Linked DNA regions of Homo sapiens. The main gene of each other region encodes a partner of the protein of the gene in region 2 in a complex. Each region holds a gene or a part of one and is shown on either strand. Other genes may lie near its edges.

Region 1 (7,973 bases), on a different chromosome or scaffold from region 2:
ACTGTGATGGTAGAACAATGTATCTACTTGGATGGTGCTCCTGGATTAGATTAACATTTAAATCAGTGAACTTTGGTTAAAGCAAATTGCTCTCCATTGTAGGGAGACCCCCTGAAACTATTGCTACGGAATAAAAGATGAAATGCTCCTGATTATTGTAAATACGAAATTGCATGCAGGATTGTGTAAAGACAATGCCAGGTTGGACTGCCAGTATAAGCCAACAGCTCGTGATGTGCTTCCCCCTGAAGAGAGCCTATGAACAGACGTGCAGTCAGGGAGGTTTCACATCACCAATATTCCTATCCCAGAAAAGCAGATGTTCATAGCCCTGGGAATGGAATGTGACCCTTGTGGAGGGCCTATAAATGGACGCATGAGCGGCACCTGTTCATATGGATAAGATAGGGCTATAAATGCCCTCATCTTGCCATGGCTCTTCTAGGCCTCTTTAAGGTTAAGGCATACTCCCTTCTGATAATTTCTGGTCTAACTGGTTATCTAGCTTCACGTCCTGTTTCTATGGATTGTTTGTAACCAGCTTTTGCTGCAACTCTTACTGCTGATTAATATCTTGCTAATCATAGGTTATGGAAAGACTGTGTTTCTGTTTTAAGGCTCTGTTAGAAATTACTGATGCACACACTATATTGTAAATTCTTATCTCTGTATACTGTACTTCTGCATACAGATGTTATGTTAAAGAATTACTTCATCCCCATGTGACCATCTCACCTCATAATCAAACGACCCTAAATCCCTCACTAACCTACCCTCGCCCTCACTAAACTTAATAATAAATGCTGGTATATCCAGTGCATTGGCAGCATCGCAGGACCAGAAGGCGGTGACCCCCTTGGACCCAGCTTTCACTATCTTGTGTGTGTCTATTATTTCCCGACCTGCCGATCCACCTGGGGACAAAGAGAGAGCCCCATTGCCTTGTGGGCTGCTGGCCAGATCCCGCGATACTCCATAATGTGGATGGACCTGAATAAAACAGAAAGACGGGCCTCGCCGAACTAGAGGGAATTCTCCTGCAGGCTACCCTCAGACTTAACCATCAGCTCTCCTGGGTCGCCAGCCCACCAGCTCACACTAAAGGCTTAGGATGGTTATGATAAGAAAGACAGATGATAACAGAAGTTAACCATGGATGAGGCTAAAGAGAAATTGAAACCCTCATACATCGCTGGTGGGAATGTAAAATAGTGCAGCTGCTTTGGAAAACAGGCTGGTAGTTACACAAAAGGCTAAACAGAATTATTATGTAATCCACTAATTCTACTCCTAGGTATATACCCAAGAGAAATGAAAACATGTCCACACAAAAACTTGTATGGGCCGGGCGTGGTGGCTCACTCCTGTAATCCCAGCCCTTTGGGAGGCTGAAGTGGGAGGATCCCTGGAGTTCAGGAGTTTGAGACTAGCTGACCAACATGGCAAGACCCTGTCTCTACAAAAACCACACAAAAATTAGCTGGACATGGTGATAAGCACCTGTAGTCCCAGCTACTTGGGAGGCGGAGGTGGGAGGATTACTTGAGCCCAGGAGGCAGAGGTTGCAGTGAGCAGAGATGACACCACTGCACTCCAACCTGGGTAACAGAGCAATACCCTGTCTCAAAAAAAAAAAAAAAAATGCTGGGGGGATGATGAAGATAGGCACAGTGGCTCAAGCCTGTAATCTGTAATCTCAGCATTTTGGGAGGCTGAGGCAGCAGGATCACTTGAGGCCAGGAGCTTGAGACCAGACTAGGCAACATATTAAGACAAAAAAATACAAAATATAGCTGGGAGTGGTGGCATGTGTCTGTATTCCCAGCTACTCAGGAGGCTGAGGTGGGAGGGTCTGAGGCTGCAGTACAAGGTGGCACCACTGTAATCCAGCTTGGGCGGCAGAGGAAGGCTCTGTCTCAAAAACAAAGAAACAAACAAAAATGGGCCACGCGTGGTGGCTCACGCCTGTAATCCCAGCAGTCTGGGAGATTGAGGTGGGTGGATCACTTGAGGTCAGGAGTTCGAGACCAGCCTGGTCAACATGGCGGAACCCTGTCTCTACTAAAATACAAAAATTAGCTGGGCATCATGGCACATGCTTGTAATCCCAGCTATCCGGGAGGCTGAGACAGGAGAATTGCTTGAACCCAGGAGGCAGAGGTTGCAGTGAGCCAAGATCGTGCCACTGCACTCCAGCTTGAGTGTTGGAGTGAGACTCTGTCTCAAACAAATGAAAAGAAACAAACAAAAAAGAAATGAGATACTGATACCTGCTATGTGATAAGCTTTGAAAACATTATGCTAAGTGAAAGAAGCCAGTTGCAGATCACATATTATAAAATTTCATTTATATGGAATATCCAAATCTATAGAGGTAGAAAGTAGATCAGTGGTTGCCTAGGGTTAGGGAGGGTGACTGCTAAAGGACATAAGGCTGCCTTCTGTGGTGATAAAAATGGTCTTAAACTGATTGTAATGATGCTGCATAACTCTCTTAAGACACTAAAAACCATTGAGTTGTACACTTTAATTTTTTTGTGTTGGCGGGGGTGGATGGAGTCTCGCTCTGTTGTCCAGGCTGGAATGCAGTGGCACGATCTCGGTTTACTGCAACCTCTGCATCCCGGGTTCAAGCGATTCTCCTGCCTCGGCCTCCTGAGTAGGGAATTACAGACCTCGTTATCGTGGCACCTTACCCTTCTGATGTTAAAAAAAAAAAAAAAAAGAGCGAGAGAGAGAGAGAGAAACATTTGTGAAGTAGGTTGTTGAGTCTCAGCACTATTGACCTTTTGGGCAGGATACTTCTTTGTTGTGGGGGATTGTTCTGTGTGTCGTGTGATGTTTAGTGGGATTGCTGGCCCTTACCTACCAGATGCCAGTGTCCCTCCACCCTGAGTTGTGACAACCCAGATTGTCTCCAGACACTCCTAAATGTCCCTGGCCGGCAAAATTGCCGCTGCTCAAGAATCACGGCTTTGACGATTAGACTTTGTGATATTTGTTTCAGTCTGTTTAGGTTTTTTTTCTTCTACCTGTATTTTTTTCTGGTTCTGGGTGGTTGTAATTAGTAGGTTATTGATCGATTCACCTAACATTTCATGAAAGTTTCATGTGTGTGTGTGTTTCAATAGAAGCATAAACTATACTCCCTAGTCTCAAGATACACAGGAAGGAAAATAAGCACAAATGTGTCACCAGGGCACAGACTAGTACTAGGTCCTCAGCAGGCCAGGTGTCTTATCCGCTGTCTGGGTCTGCTCTAGCTCCAGGCTTAGAACCCCTGCCACACGACTCCACAGCTCGGTTGGCACCCTTTCCCTCCTCCGACTTCTGCTGCCTCGAGCTTGGTTAGCCATCCCCCTGCCCCTGCCTCATCCTCAGCTCCAGTTCCTTGCTCAGGCTGCAGCAGTCTCCATCCCCTGTGCAGACACTGCCGTTCCTCCACGGCCCAGTATCAGGCTTTCCCTGGGCCTCTCCTCTCTCCTGGCCCATCTCCCATCATCCATCTCTGCCTGGCCCAGGCCCTTTGGCACCAAGCAGGCTGACTCTTGTCACTGGCTAATCTGTTCTGTGGTACATTTTCTCTCCTCACCCTCCCATATCAATTCCTCGAAGGCAGGGCCGATCTGGAGACTAGGAAGCCACTTCTCTTTCGACAGCCCCCACCACAGCCCAGCCCGTGCCAGGCACCCAGCAGCTCCTGAAGCCCACTGGCATTGAACATGGCATTCAATCCCTGCCAAGCCTGCCCTTCCCATCTGGTTTCCCAGGGCTCTTCCCAACACCTCCTCCTCCACCTGCCAGTTAAAATCTTCCCAGACTCAGCTCAAGGAGATGCTCCTAAGGTGGAATGAAATCTCTTCTTCCCCACCTGGAGACAATCTACTTCCTCTCCCTACACCTGGCAACTGGCGCACAACCTTGTATCTTAAATTAGATTCAGCCTGAGACTGTCTCCCACCAATCCCTGCTCCCTGTCCTGCTGAGCACCTTGAGGAAAGGGCTTTGGGGCTGTTTATCTTTGTCCTGGAAACCATCCTTCAACTCACTCTGGGGCCTGCCTAGCATGTCAACCGAGTTTGGAGAATAGGGCAGAATAGGGCAGGACAGGACAGGACAAGACAGGGCAGGATAGGATAGGAGCGAGCCAGCTCAGTAGCTCACATTTGTAATCCCAGCGCCTTGGGGGGCTGCGGTAGGAGAATCGCTTTGGGAGCAGGAGTTGCAGGCCGCAGTGAGCTATGATCAGCTTGGGCGACTGAGCGAGACCCTGTCTCTAAAACAAACACACAAGTCCGGGCGCGGTGGCTCATGCCTGTAATCTTAGCACTTTGGGAGGCCGAGGTGGGCGGATCACGAGGTCAAGAAATCGAGACCATCCTGGCCAACATGGTGAAACCCCGTCTCTACTAAAAATACAAAAATTAGCTGGGCGTGGTGGTGCGCGCCTGTAGTCCCAGCTACTCGGGAGGCTGAGGCAGGAGAATCGCTTGAACCCGGGAGGCAGAGGTTGCAGTGAGCCGAGATCGTGCCACTGCACTCCAGCCTGGCGACAGAGTGAGACTCCGTCTCAGAACAAACAAACAAAAGGATAGAAAGGCGAGCACAAATATTCCCAATTCATAACACTCCCTCGCACTGTCAATGCCCCAGACACGCGCTATCATCTCTAGCAAACTCCCCCAGGCGCCTGCAGGATGGGTTAAGGAAGGCGACGAGCACCAGCTGCCCTGCTGAGGCTGTCCCGACGTCACATGATTCTCCAATCACATGATCCCTAGAAATGGGGTGTGGGGCGAGAGGAAGCAGGGAGGAGAGTGATTTGAGTAGAAAAGAAACACAGCATTCCAGGCTGGCCCCACCTCTATATTGATAAGTAGCCAATGGGAGCGGGTAGCCCTGATCCCTGGCCAATGGAAACTGAGGTAGGCGGGTCATCGCGCTGGGGTCTGTAGTCTGAGCGCTACCCGGTTGCTGCTGCCCAAGGACCGCGGAGTCGGACGCAGGTAGGAGAGCGGCCGCGCAGACCTCTCGCCTGCTCCTGCCCAGGGGCCCGCCAGGGCCATGTGAGCTTGAGGTTCCCCTGGAGTCTCAGCCGGAGACAACAGAAGAACCGCTTACTGAAACTCCTTGGGGGTTCTGATACACTAGGGGGAGTTTTATGGGAAAGAGGAAGCAGTAATTGCAGTGACGCCCCGTTAGAAGGGGCTTTCTACCTCCCCAGCATTCCCCCAAAGCAGGGACCACACCATTCTTGACCCAGCTCCACCCCTGTCGGTAGGTGCTGGCTTCTTCCCCTCTCCTGGTGGTGGTGGGTGGTTCCCGCGGCGGCCTGGAGCCGGAGGGGCGCGCGACCCTGGGCTGGGAGCTCCGAGGGCCTGGGAACGAGACCTGAGACCTTGGCTTCTCGAAGGTAGTAGGGACTTGGGAGTGGTGACTGAACCTGGTCTGGCTCCTCCTTACTTCCTCTTGTTGCGGGTGGGACGAGCTAGCTTCCGCCTCTCCCAGCCACTTTTTCCTGCTCATTTGCAGCTAGGTTGGCTCCCCTTTTGGGAATTTCCTCTCCCCTTGGCACTCGGAGTTGGGGGGTGCCACCTAGTGGAAGATAACGGAGCTAGGGTCTTGAAGAGGCTGCTGTCCCCTCTGGCTGTTTTGGCGGTGTAGGGTGGCATGAGAGACTGCGACTCGCCTCCTCATCCCTGTTTCTGTATGCGAGTGCTTGTATTCAGTAGAAGCATACACTATACTCCCTCAATTTAGGGTAAACAGGAGGGGCCACATGCACAGGTAATTCACCAGGGAGCCGAACACTCCTGTGCAGACAGACTCCCCTTCCCAGCAAGCCATGGCAGCGGACAGCCTGCTGAGAACACCCAGGAAGCAGGCGGTGCCAGCTGCAGGTGCTTTGCCTGGGAGCTGTGGGGCTGAGGAGAGGGTCCACTGTCCAGGACCAGTGAACTTCATCCTTATCTGTCCAGGAGGTGGCCTCTTGGGGATGCTGAGTTAGGGGAGGGGCACTTGAGGAAAGCCAGGTGGAGCAGAGAGGATGTGAGTGACTGGGTGGGTGAGATTTCCTGCCCCTCCCCCCGCAGTGGTATCCACACCTAGACTCGTGGGGTAACTGAGGCACAGACAGAGAGCAACTTCTCAGGCCCTCACAGTTGGCAATTCTAGGATTAGGACCCAAGTGCGATTTTCAGGCAGTCCCTGTACCCTGTTTCTGTTGTACCTGTTGCACCATTCCCAGGCACTGCCCATCGTGCCACTAGTGATATGAACCCAGGTCCAATACGCTCTGGGGCCATCAAAGCCTGACGTCACCATGACCTGATGTGTGACGTGTTATAGGTGTCCCTTGGTATCTTCACGGAACTGGTTCCAGGACCCCAAAATCTGTGGGTGCTCAAGCCCCTGAGATAAAATGGTGTAATATTTGCATATAACCTATACATACTTTAAATCATTTCTAGATTACTTATACCTAATACAATGGAAATGACATGTCGGCTGGGCGTGGTGGCTCATGCCTGTAATCCCACCACTTTGGGAGGCCGTGGCAGGTGGATCACCTGAGGTCTGGAGTTTGAGACCAGCCTGACCAACATGGTGAAACCCCCATCTCTACTAAAAATACAAAAATTAGCCAGGTGTGGTAGCGCACACCTATAATCCCACCTACTTGGGAGGCTGAGGCAGGAGAATTGCTTGAACCTGGGAGGCGGAGTTCGCAGTAAGCTGAGATCGCGCCACTGTACTACAGCCTGGGTGACAGAGCAGGACTCCATCTCAAAAAAAAAAGAGAAAAAGAAAAAGAAATGCCATGTAAATAGTTGTGATCCTGAATTGTTTAGGGAATAATAAGAAAGAACTATCTGTAGATGTTCAGTATAGATGCACCCATCGTAAGCCTAACTACATTGTATAACTCAGCAACGATGTAACATTTTCAGGGGTTTTTTTGTTTTGTTTTTTGAGACAGAATCTCAGTCTCACTCTGTCACCCAGGCTGGAGTATGTTGGCGTGATCTCTGCTCACTGCAACCTCCACCTCCTGGGCTCAAGCGATTCTCCTGCCTCAGCCTCTTGAGTAGCTGGGATTGCAGGTGTGCGCTACCACGCATGGCTAATTTTTGTATTTTTAATAGAGATGGGGTTTTACCACGTTGGTCAGGCTGGTCTTGAACTCCTGACCTTGGGATCCGCCCACCTGGGCCTCCCAAAGTGCTGGGATTACAGGCGTTAGCCACCGCGCCCAATATATTTTGATCCCTGGTTGGATATGGAGGGCTGACTGTACTTAACATCTCTAAGCTTCAGTTTCCTCCTTTAAAATAAAGGTGTGGCTGGGTGTGGTGGTTCAAGCCTGTAATCCCAGCACTTAGGGAGGCTGAGGTGGGTGGATCAGCTGAGGTCAGGAGTTCAAGACCAGCCTGACCAATATGGTGAAACCCCCTCTCTGCTAAAAATACAAAAATTAGCCAGGCGTGGTGGCGAGCGCCTGTAGTCCCAGCTACTTGCTTGAACTTGGGAGGCAGAGGTTGCAGTGAGCTGAGATCGTGCCACTGAACTCGAGCATGGGCAACAGAGCAAGACTGTCTCAAAAAAAAAAAAAAAAAGGGGGTGAGCAGACGTGGTGGCACGCTCCCACAGTCCCAGCTACTTAGTAGGAGGCCAAGGTTGGAGGATTGCTTGATCCCAGGAGTCTGAGTCCAGCCTGGGCAACATGGCAATACCTCATCTCTAAAAATAAAATAAAAGTAAAGGTATTAATTACTACTTTGGATGGTTGTTGCAAAGAAATATATATAAAATAATGGAGAGTCTTGTAACTGGCTCCCAAGAGGCTCAACAGACATTACTGTTTTTGCTTCTTCATTATGAGTTACCTCTCTGGCCACCCCACTGAACTAGCTGGGCTAGCTGAGCCTGGGAGAAGAGTTGTTTAGGAAGTGAGAGGCTGCTCTCCACAGAGA
Region 2 (7,938 bases):
TTTTGGAGGCCGAGGTGGGCGTATCACAAGGTCAGGAGTTTGAGACCAGCCTGACCAACATGGTGAAACGCTCTCTCTACTAAAAATAAAAAATTAGCCAGGCATGGTGGCATGCACCTGTAATCCCAGCTACTCAGAAGGCTGAGGCAGGAGAGTCGCTTGAAGCCGGAGGCGGAGGTTGCAGTGAGCCAAGAACACGCCACTGCACTCCAGCCTAGGCGAGAGAGTGGGACTCCATCTCAAAAAAAAAAAAAAAAGGCCCTCTCCGTGTCTGTTTTCCTAAATCGACCTCCTTCAGAGGTGTCACAGGACTTCCTGAGCTACTTTCTAACAACCCAAGACTGGAATGTTAACCATCCACTACCCCACATAACCCTTCATTGCTAGTCACTTAACGGTCTTCCAGCTGCTTTGAAAGGTACTTTATTTGCTGACTCTTGCAGTGATTTTGGCTACTACCGTCCAGAAAATGACTCCAAGTGTGTGGAACAGCCAGAACTGAAGGGCCACGACCTGGAGTTTTGTCTGTACGGAAGAGAAGAACACCTAACAACAAATGGGTGAGGTGGCCTTTTCTCCCTTGTCACGATGGATGAGGTGTTCTTGTTCAGAGTGAAAGCTGCTTCTCTCCACACTGAGATCCAAGCCCTACTTTAGAGCACTATTTTTGGCGGGGTTGGGGAGGGGCAGGATATGAAGGCCTCCTTCAAGGGTCAACTACAGGAGGTGAGCCATGAGTGCTTGGTGTCAGAGGACTCAACCCCACCAACACCACGAGGCAGAGCAGGAGAACAAGCTCGGCCAGATCCTGCACCCCTGCCTCCCGCCCAACCACCCCCAGGAAGGGAGGAGAGGCGAGGGACCCACAGGCAGAATGACAGAAGCGTCCCATCCGCCATGAACGTCCATCGCTCGTCTGGCACAGTTTAGGCACAGCCAGGGAGAGCTCTGTCTGATAGGACTTTCTTTGGTGATGGAAGTGTTCTGTAATTTGCTGTGCCCAATATGATAGTCACTAGCCACACATAGCTGTGGACACTAGTGTAACCGAGGAACTGAAATTTTCGTTTTAATCAATTTTAAGTAGCCACCATATTGGACAGTGCTGCTCTAGACGGGCCTCATTACCTCGCTCCCCTGATAACTTCCCCTCTCCCATTTTGTACCACTTGTTAATGAGCTTTTTTGGGGTCAGATTTCTTTGGCACAGTCTCTTAGGTAGAAAGAACAGGCATGTTTCTGACAGCAGGGGACAGAGATGCTTAGTTTGCTTAAGGCCTGAAACTACACAAAATATCCCCCAAAACATCCCTGTGGACATTCCCCCCAGGCCTGAAACATGACGTAAGGATGGGAAGCTTTTCGGCAGCTTTTCAAATCTTGTTTCCAAGAAATAGGCAGGTACCCAGGAATACATCCTTATCTTCTGTTACCAAATCTTCTTTGCCTGGTAGGTACCGGAAAATTCCAGGGGACAAATGCCAGGGTGGGGTAAATCCAGTTCGAGAAGTAAAAGACTTGAAAAAGAAATGCACAAGCAACTTTTTGAGTCCGGAAAAACAGGTATGTTAAAATAGGTCTAGTTTTCAGGTACAAATGGGATTTTGTGTTCTGCTAAGAAAAATCAAAGTTAAAGCATCAAGAGTTTTGTTACTGATAAAAAGTGGTCAAACTACTTCTCTCAGGCTTCCCTTATACAGGAAGCTGTTAGCATGAAGGATGGGTCATGTAACCCAGTGATAAGCTCACCCTACTGAAAGCTCTTTTCTTATTGAGGGTTGGGGGATGATATTCTGTAAAGTTGTAAAATTCTTAAAATCATACAGTTGTGGAAATTTCTGAGGCTGAGAGTCATTTAGGAAAACAAAAAGGTTGTCTGTGGGCTGGGTACAGTGGCTCACACCTGTAATCCCAGCACTTTGGAAGTCCAAGGCAGGCAGATCACTGAGGTCAGGAGTTCAAGACCAGGCTGTCCAACATGGTGAAACCCTGTCTCTGCTAAAAATACAAAAATTAAAATTACAAAAATTAGCTGGGTGTGGTGGTTTACGCCTGTAGTCCCAGTTACTCGGGAGGCTGAGGTAGGAGAATCATGTGAACCTGGGAGGTGGAGGTTGCAGTGAGCCGAGATCGTGCTGCTACACTCCAACCTGGGCAACAGAGCAAGACTCCGTACCAAAAAAAAAAGGTTGTCTGTGAAGGGCCATGACCTGGAATTGTGCATGTGTGGAAGAGAAGAGCACTGGGCAATAGGTAGGGTGGATCTCTGACCAAGTCATGTTAAGTATGTTCAAAGTGAAAAATTGAGCTATGGTAATGGGCTGGTTTTGATTTAAATGAAGCAAGTTACCTGTCGGGCATGGTGGCTTACTCCTGTATAGTCCCAGCACTTTGGGAGGCTGAGGTGGGGAGATCAGTTGAGGCTATGAATTGGAGAGCAGCCTGGGCAACATGGAGAAACTCCATCTTTACAAAAAAAATACAAAAATTAGCCGGATGTGGTGGTGTGTGCCTGTAGTCCCAGCTACTCAGGAGGCTGAAGGGAGAGAATCACCTGAGCCTGGGAGGTCAAGGCTGCAGTGAGCCATGATCATATCACTGCACTCCAGCCTGGGTGACAGAGTGAGATCCTGTCTCAATTTAAAAAAAAAAAAAAAAAAAAAAGGTTATGAGGCTGCATCCAAATCTGTAGCACTGAACTACCTGTGGAACTGGAGATGTGTAAAGAGGAAACCTCTTGATAATGAAACACTAGACCAGCAGCATGACTTCAGATGCTCAACAGCAGGCCCGTTTCCCAATTCGTAATAGGAGAGGTCAAGCTGGATCACCTGCAGTCCCTCCTCTCTGCTGTTCTAAGGGATGAGGGACTGACAAGGGGTGGGATTAAGGAGATGATGGGAGAGGAGTGTGTGAGTGTGTGTATTGGTAAGGGGGCGAGTTCCTCCTTCTGTGCACCCTTGTCCTGGGCTCCTGGTGACTCTCCTCAGAGTGTTCGTGTGTGTGATTGCACAGGACTCCCACCCACAGGGACACAGCTTGTCCTAGAATCCAGCTCTGCCTCCTCTGGGATACATTGAAAACACACACTCCCTATTTCCCACCCAGAAGCAGGTAGGTCACATGCAAACAGTGATATGATAAGGCTTATTTATAATAATATATAAAAAATTAAGTAAACAAATAAATCTTGGTGTCATATAATGGCCTGCCTGGTTCTTCTGACACAGCTTCTTCCCAGATAATGGCCCTGTTCTAGAGTCATTCAGCCTACTGTTACAGTAGTCTCCCTTTCCTACTCCACCCTTAAGCCCCAAGACTTGTGAACAGTGGTAGTGTGAAGCAATCATACTTGATCTAGGCAGTTGCCCAGGCTTCCAGTGTAACTTTGACATTTAAACCACAGAATTTGAAGGTTCAAGGCAGTTGGAGCTAAGATGACTCTCTGCCAGCTATAATATTCTCCTGGTAACACTGAGATGGTTCATCTTGGGGGGTTGGAAAAGAGCCATCATTAAGCGCATCAGGACTGCAGATCATTCACAAAGAGATGAGGGGAATGAGTGGCTGCCTTGACCTCAGTCCTAGGATATGCATGCCTAAAACTTTTGTGTTTGTGTTTTAATTTCTCAAGAATTCCAAGTCAAATTCTGTTCCAATTATCCTGGCCATCGTGGGATTGATGCTGGTCACAGTCGTAGCAGGAGTGCTCATTGTGAAGAAATATGTCTGTGGGGGAAGGTAAGGAACACAGAAGTCAATCCAAGGTACTGAGTTCAAGCCAGAAGGCTGATCTAGGGCATATGGCTGAGTCTACTCTTGGCAAAAACTAGGTACTTGCAGTACTGTTCCTGAAAAATCAGGCCCAAATCTTCTCATGTCGTACATTTTTCATATGTCAACCATGGACTGTGCTTTCTGTGTCTGTGATGCGTTCCTGAGTGTATAAAACTGAGAAAGTCCACAGTCCTGTAAGAAGTGCACCCCTGCTGTGTACCACCGAGTGTTAAGGAGGTTTCTGTTCACAGGTTCCTGGTGCATCGATACTCTGTGCTGCAGCAGCATGCAGAGGCCAATGGTGTGGATGGTGTGGATGCTTTGGACACAGCCTCCCACACTAATAAAAGTGGTTATCATGATGACTCAGATGAGGTGAGGCTATTTCTTCTTGAATGGTAGTACCCCCCCCCCCAAAAAATACAAGAAAATAAAGTCTGTCTTCTATTCATGATCAAGATATGCCAGGGCCAAGGCGACTTAATGACCATAAGATTTGGCAAGCCCAGAAACTAGGTGATTGCTTTTGAAATAGGAGTGTTGTGGTCTGTCGGTAATATGGTGCATGTCTTTTTCAGGACCTCTTGGAATAGCTCTTCAGAGGAGCTGGACCCAGCATGGATGGTGGAACCACAGTACCTCTTACACTCCCTGTGGCTCCAACTTCAGGAAATAAATTTCCCATTGCGAGGGACCCAGCTCTGTTTCTGCTGCTTCCATCAAAGCCAAAAGGACCTACACTAAAGAAATGCAGGGTGGGGGTGGGGAACCCTGAGCACTTTTTTACAATTGGCTCTGAGAAAAAGGGAGACATTTTAAATTCTTTAACTTCTTATTTCTCGTCCTGTCTCTTTGCAAAGTATGGGCTTTTTTGTTTTTGTTTTTTAAGGGAAACGAAATGGAATTCGAAGGGACCTTTTCACTAACCCCACTTCTGTGTGTTCTGCATGGCGCCTGCCCCAGGGCATCTGCCAACTCCAGTATCAGCTCTCACAGTGTACTTGGTACCATCCCTGGGCTCTGCTGGCGAGACGAAACAGCTGTAGAGATGAAAACAGGCTGCAGAGGCTGGCACAGCCTGGCCGGCTTTTCTCCATCTGGGGACAGTCCTACTCCAAGAACACTGCACACCAGCTCCTCACACAGATCCCACTTACTCTTTTTTTTTTTTTCAGAGACCACAGACCACAGTGATTTTTCTTTTCCCTTGTTTAATTAGGCAATACCCTTGTTAATTGCCCTTTGGCAACTAACTTAACCATGTGCTTCCCACACAGTACATCAGGAAAACTTACAGGGCAATATTTTTAACTTGGGGCAGGAAGAAGGGAGCAGCAGAGAATTGACTAGATATAGCACCTATTAAAAGAGAACTCTTGCTTCTTCTGAGATTTTTCAAGCTGTGCTTTGTGTGTGTGCCAGTAGACTTACGCAAGGACAGGGTACAAACTTAGCTGGAAGTCTGCCCAGGCTGAATGATCTCTTCCCTAGAGTTGATTGTCGGGTACACAGTGTGAACCCCCGAAGACGGAACCTCACAGTCTTCCATGTTCCCTTCTTAACTGTCGTGTGGCTCGTTGCTAAATCATGACAATGGCTGCCTATCTGCTGCTTCTTAGGTTGCTGTTGTACATGGAACCAGGACTAGAGATTTTTTCAGATTTATAGACTTAAAAAATTAGAATTTTATTACCAGGCTTTCCTTCTCACCCCTTTTTTCTGACTTTGCCAAGTAATTTGTTGACACGAAAATTTTGGAGGAACCAATTGAAAACACACTTCCAGTCTAGATGATGCTTTGTGTGATACATTAAGTTCTTATTTTGGATTAAAAGAAGTTTTCCATTTGATACCTCTCTAAATTAAATAAATTATAGAATGTAGTTGGGTGGATTTTGGGGTGGCCATATAGTAATGGAAAGCTGCAATAATTAGTTTTAATACAGCTTGAATATTTGCTATATAGAAATATAGTATGGAAAGTTTTTGGTCTTAATGTAGCTACTGTGCGGGTCACAGTTTCTCCCAATGATTATGACTGGGACATTCTTTGGTAGATACCATTTGCTACTAGTTTATTTTGTGGCTAGAAAGTCAGTTTTGTGTGTTTTTTTTTTTTTTTATTTGAAGTGCCAAATTAACTTTAGTCAGAATGTGAGCAGATGGCTAAGTTCTCTCCTCCCCAGAATGGATTAACAGCTGCGTGGAAAGTGGGGGAGAGAGTGGATGGAGACTTTTAGAGATGTTAAAACTGCAGTAGAATGAAATGAGTCAGGGAGCTTCAGTTAGAAAATAAAGTTGAGGCAGTTTTTGTGAAGATAATATGGTTAGGGCTGGAGTGCACTAGTCTTTTTGCTTATTCATTTTGCATGGTTTTAAAATTAAAAATAATTCCGAAGATACACCAGCTCACAAATGAAAACGTCAGCCTCTGCCCCACCCTCCCTCCTGCCCAAAGTGAATTTGGTACTCAGAAAAGAACTGTTTATACCACTCACCTTTCTCCCAGCATGTACTCACTGTGGGCAGATGCACCAATACATGGTAATCCTCTTACTCATTTTAAGACGTAGGAAACTCAATATTCTTCTCTAACCATATACGATAGGGCTCTTCGCTTTTAATGATATCTGGGATTTCTGTGGAACTTGGCAAATTTTCAGAGCACCTTCACTCACATAATGTCATTTGAACCTCACAATGTTCTTGGGATGGAGTCAGTTGTTCAGGGTCCCCGTGTGTGTGATAAGCAGTGCTGGCTGGCTGTCTTCAGAACTCTTGGAAATCTTTACACATGCGAGTGCTAACCACTTTGAGCAAGGCTGCCTTCTTGTAGATGACTTGCTGTTCTTTATGACAGGGATCAGTGGCATTTGTTTCCTAGCAGTATTTAGCACCTTTTTGCCACCTTGGTGAACAGAAAATTGTATTTTCCTGTCTTTCATGGCTGAAAACAAAAGTAATGGGAATTTTAAATACGTTTGCAGAAACTGCCCCTCCCCTCATTGAGGGTCACTGCTCAAGAGTGCAGGAGTGGACTCTCCACTGATGGGTCTCCCTCCCCATCCTGGTTTCCACCCCGGGCTGGCTAGCTCTGTTGGTTTGAAGACTGACAGCCAGCCTGGCTCATTCTCATTATTGGCTAGTTAGCTTTCTTTATCAACCTGCTCACTCACAAATGTGTGCCCTCAGCCAGAGAGTAAGAAAGCCCAAATCTGTTACAGCTTCTAAAAAAATAGATTTCTAATTTGTCCTACTCATGTTAGGAGCATTATCTTTGAAGGTAAAACATAGTGTATCATTGTGTAAACTCCCAGGCTTGATGTAGCAGAAGAGATCATTTCTGGAGGCTTCAGCAATGGAATTTAGCATTATAAGAGAGATTGGACAAACCAGTCCAAAGTGGTCCGAGTTCTTAAATCCAGGTAGGGAACTCACTCTTCTTTCTTCTCTGGACCTAATTGGGCATTGGGCTTTAGTGAGACCACAGACCAGGCCCGTCTCTCCTGTAGGCTTTTAATTCAATGGCAACTCTATTTCAAAGAATAAAAGCCTTTGGAGAGTTGCGGCAGTTCTGGGGGCGGGCTCAGGAGAGTCCATAGATCAGCCGTAACTGGAACGTAGAATCTACGTCTGCCTCTGAATGGACTTCCCACCTCCTCTCTCTTGCTCTGATGCTTGCCTCTGGGCCTCTCCATGCCCAAGGTGGTCTTTCATCCTTGACAGGCTGGTAATGTGCTGGCCACCTCCAGCTCCTGCATCGAGTCTGTAAACCAGAGCTGGTTCTCATGGCCTTCGTCACGATACCAGGATACGGAGGGGAGCCCAGGGCCATCCATACCCACCCCAGGGTAACGGGGCTGGCCTGGCATTAGTCATTATTTAGTTTCCAGGCCAACCATCCAGATAGAGATTCCCTCTTTCCTTTGAGCAGTGCTCTCAAGAGCTCCGTGCCTGTCCACAATGACCTAGAGTGCATCCTGCTCATTGTCAGTGTAGCCCCTCGCCCCTATATTCATCCAGGATACTTGGAAGTGCTAAAATAGGAAGGGATTCGGCTTTCAACTTTGCTACCATCTTCCCTGAAGCAGGAAAATGAACATGGACTTAAATGTTCTTTGAAAAAACCAAAGTTTTAAGATTTGCTGTGTGATGAAGTGA

What was found.
Region 1: the proteins of SORT1 (region 2) and GRN are in contact, whole or in part, in a crystal structure (PDB 8T8S), measured with the Homo sapiens proteins. Residues at the interface, in NP_002950.3 of Homo sapiens: Leu108, Gly110, Ser111, Val112, Ser113, Leu114, Ile174, Gly175, Pro176, Lys260, Tyr304, Ser305, Phe306, Gly307, Leu308, Phe314, Ala315, Ser316, Arg325, Ile327, Phe350, Tyr351, Ser352, Ile353, Leu354, Tyr395, Thr398, Gly399, Thr402, Phe404; in NP_002078.1 of Homo sapiens: Pro578, Arg579, Trp580, Asp581, Ala582, Pro583, Arg585, Arg590, Gln591, Leu592, Leu593.

Annotation. Positions count from the first base shown.
Region 1 is NC_000017.11:44,340,329-44,348,301, forward strand, and holds the start of GRN (progranulin precursor), read left to right. Parts: upstream 1-4,973; 5' UTR 4,974-5,006; intron 5,007-7,973. UniProt on the Homo sapiens protein: Secreted protein that acts as a key regulator of lysosomal function and as a growth factor involved in inflammation, wound healing and cell proliferation. Regulates protein trafficking to lysosomes, and also the activity of lysosomal enzymes.
Region 2 is NC_000001.11:109,310,475-109,318,412, reverse strand, and holds part of SORT1 (sortilin isoform 1 preproprotein), read left to right. Parts: intron 1-443; coding exon 444-560; intron 561-1,454; coding exon 1,455-1,563; intron 1,564-3,634; coding exon 3,635-3,741; intron 3,742-4,028; coding exon 4,029-4,152; intron 4,153-4,355; coding exon 4,356-4,370; 3' UTR 4,371-7,938.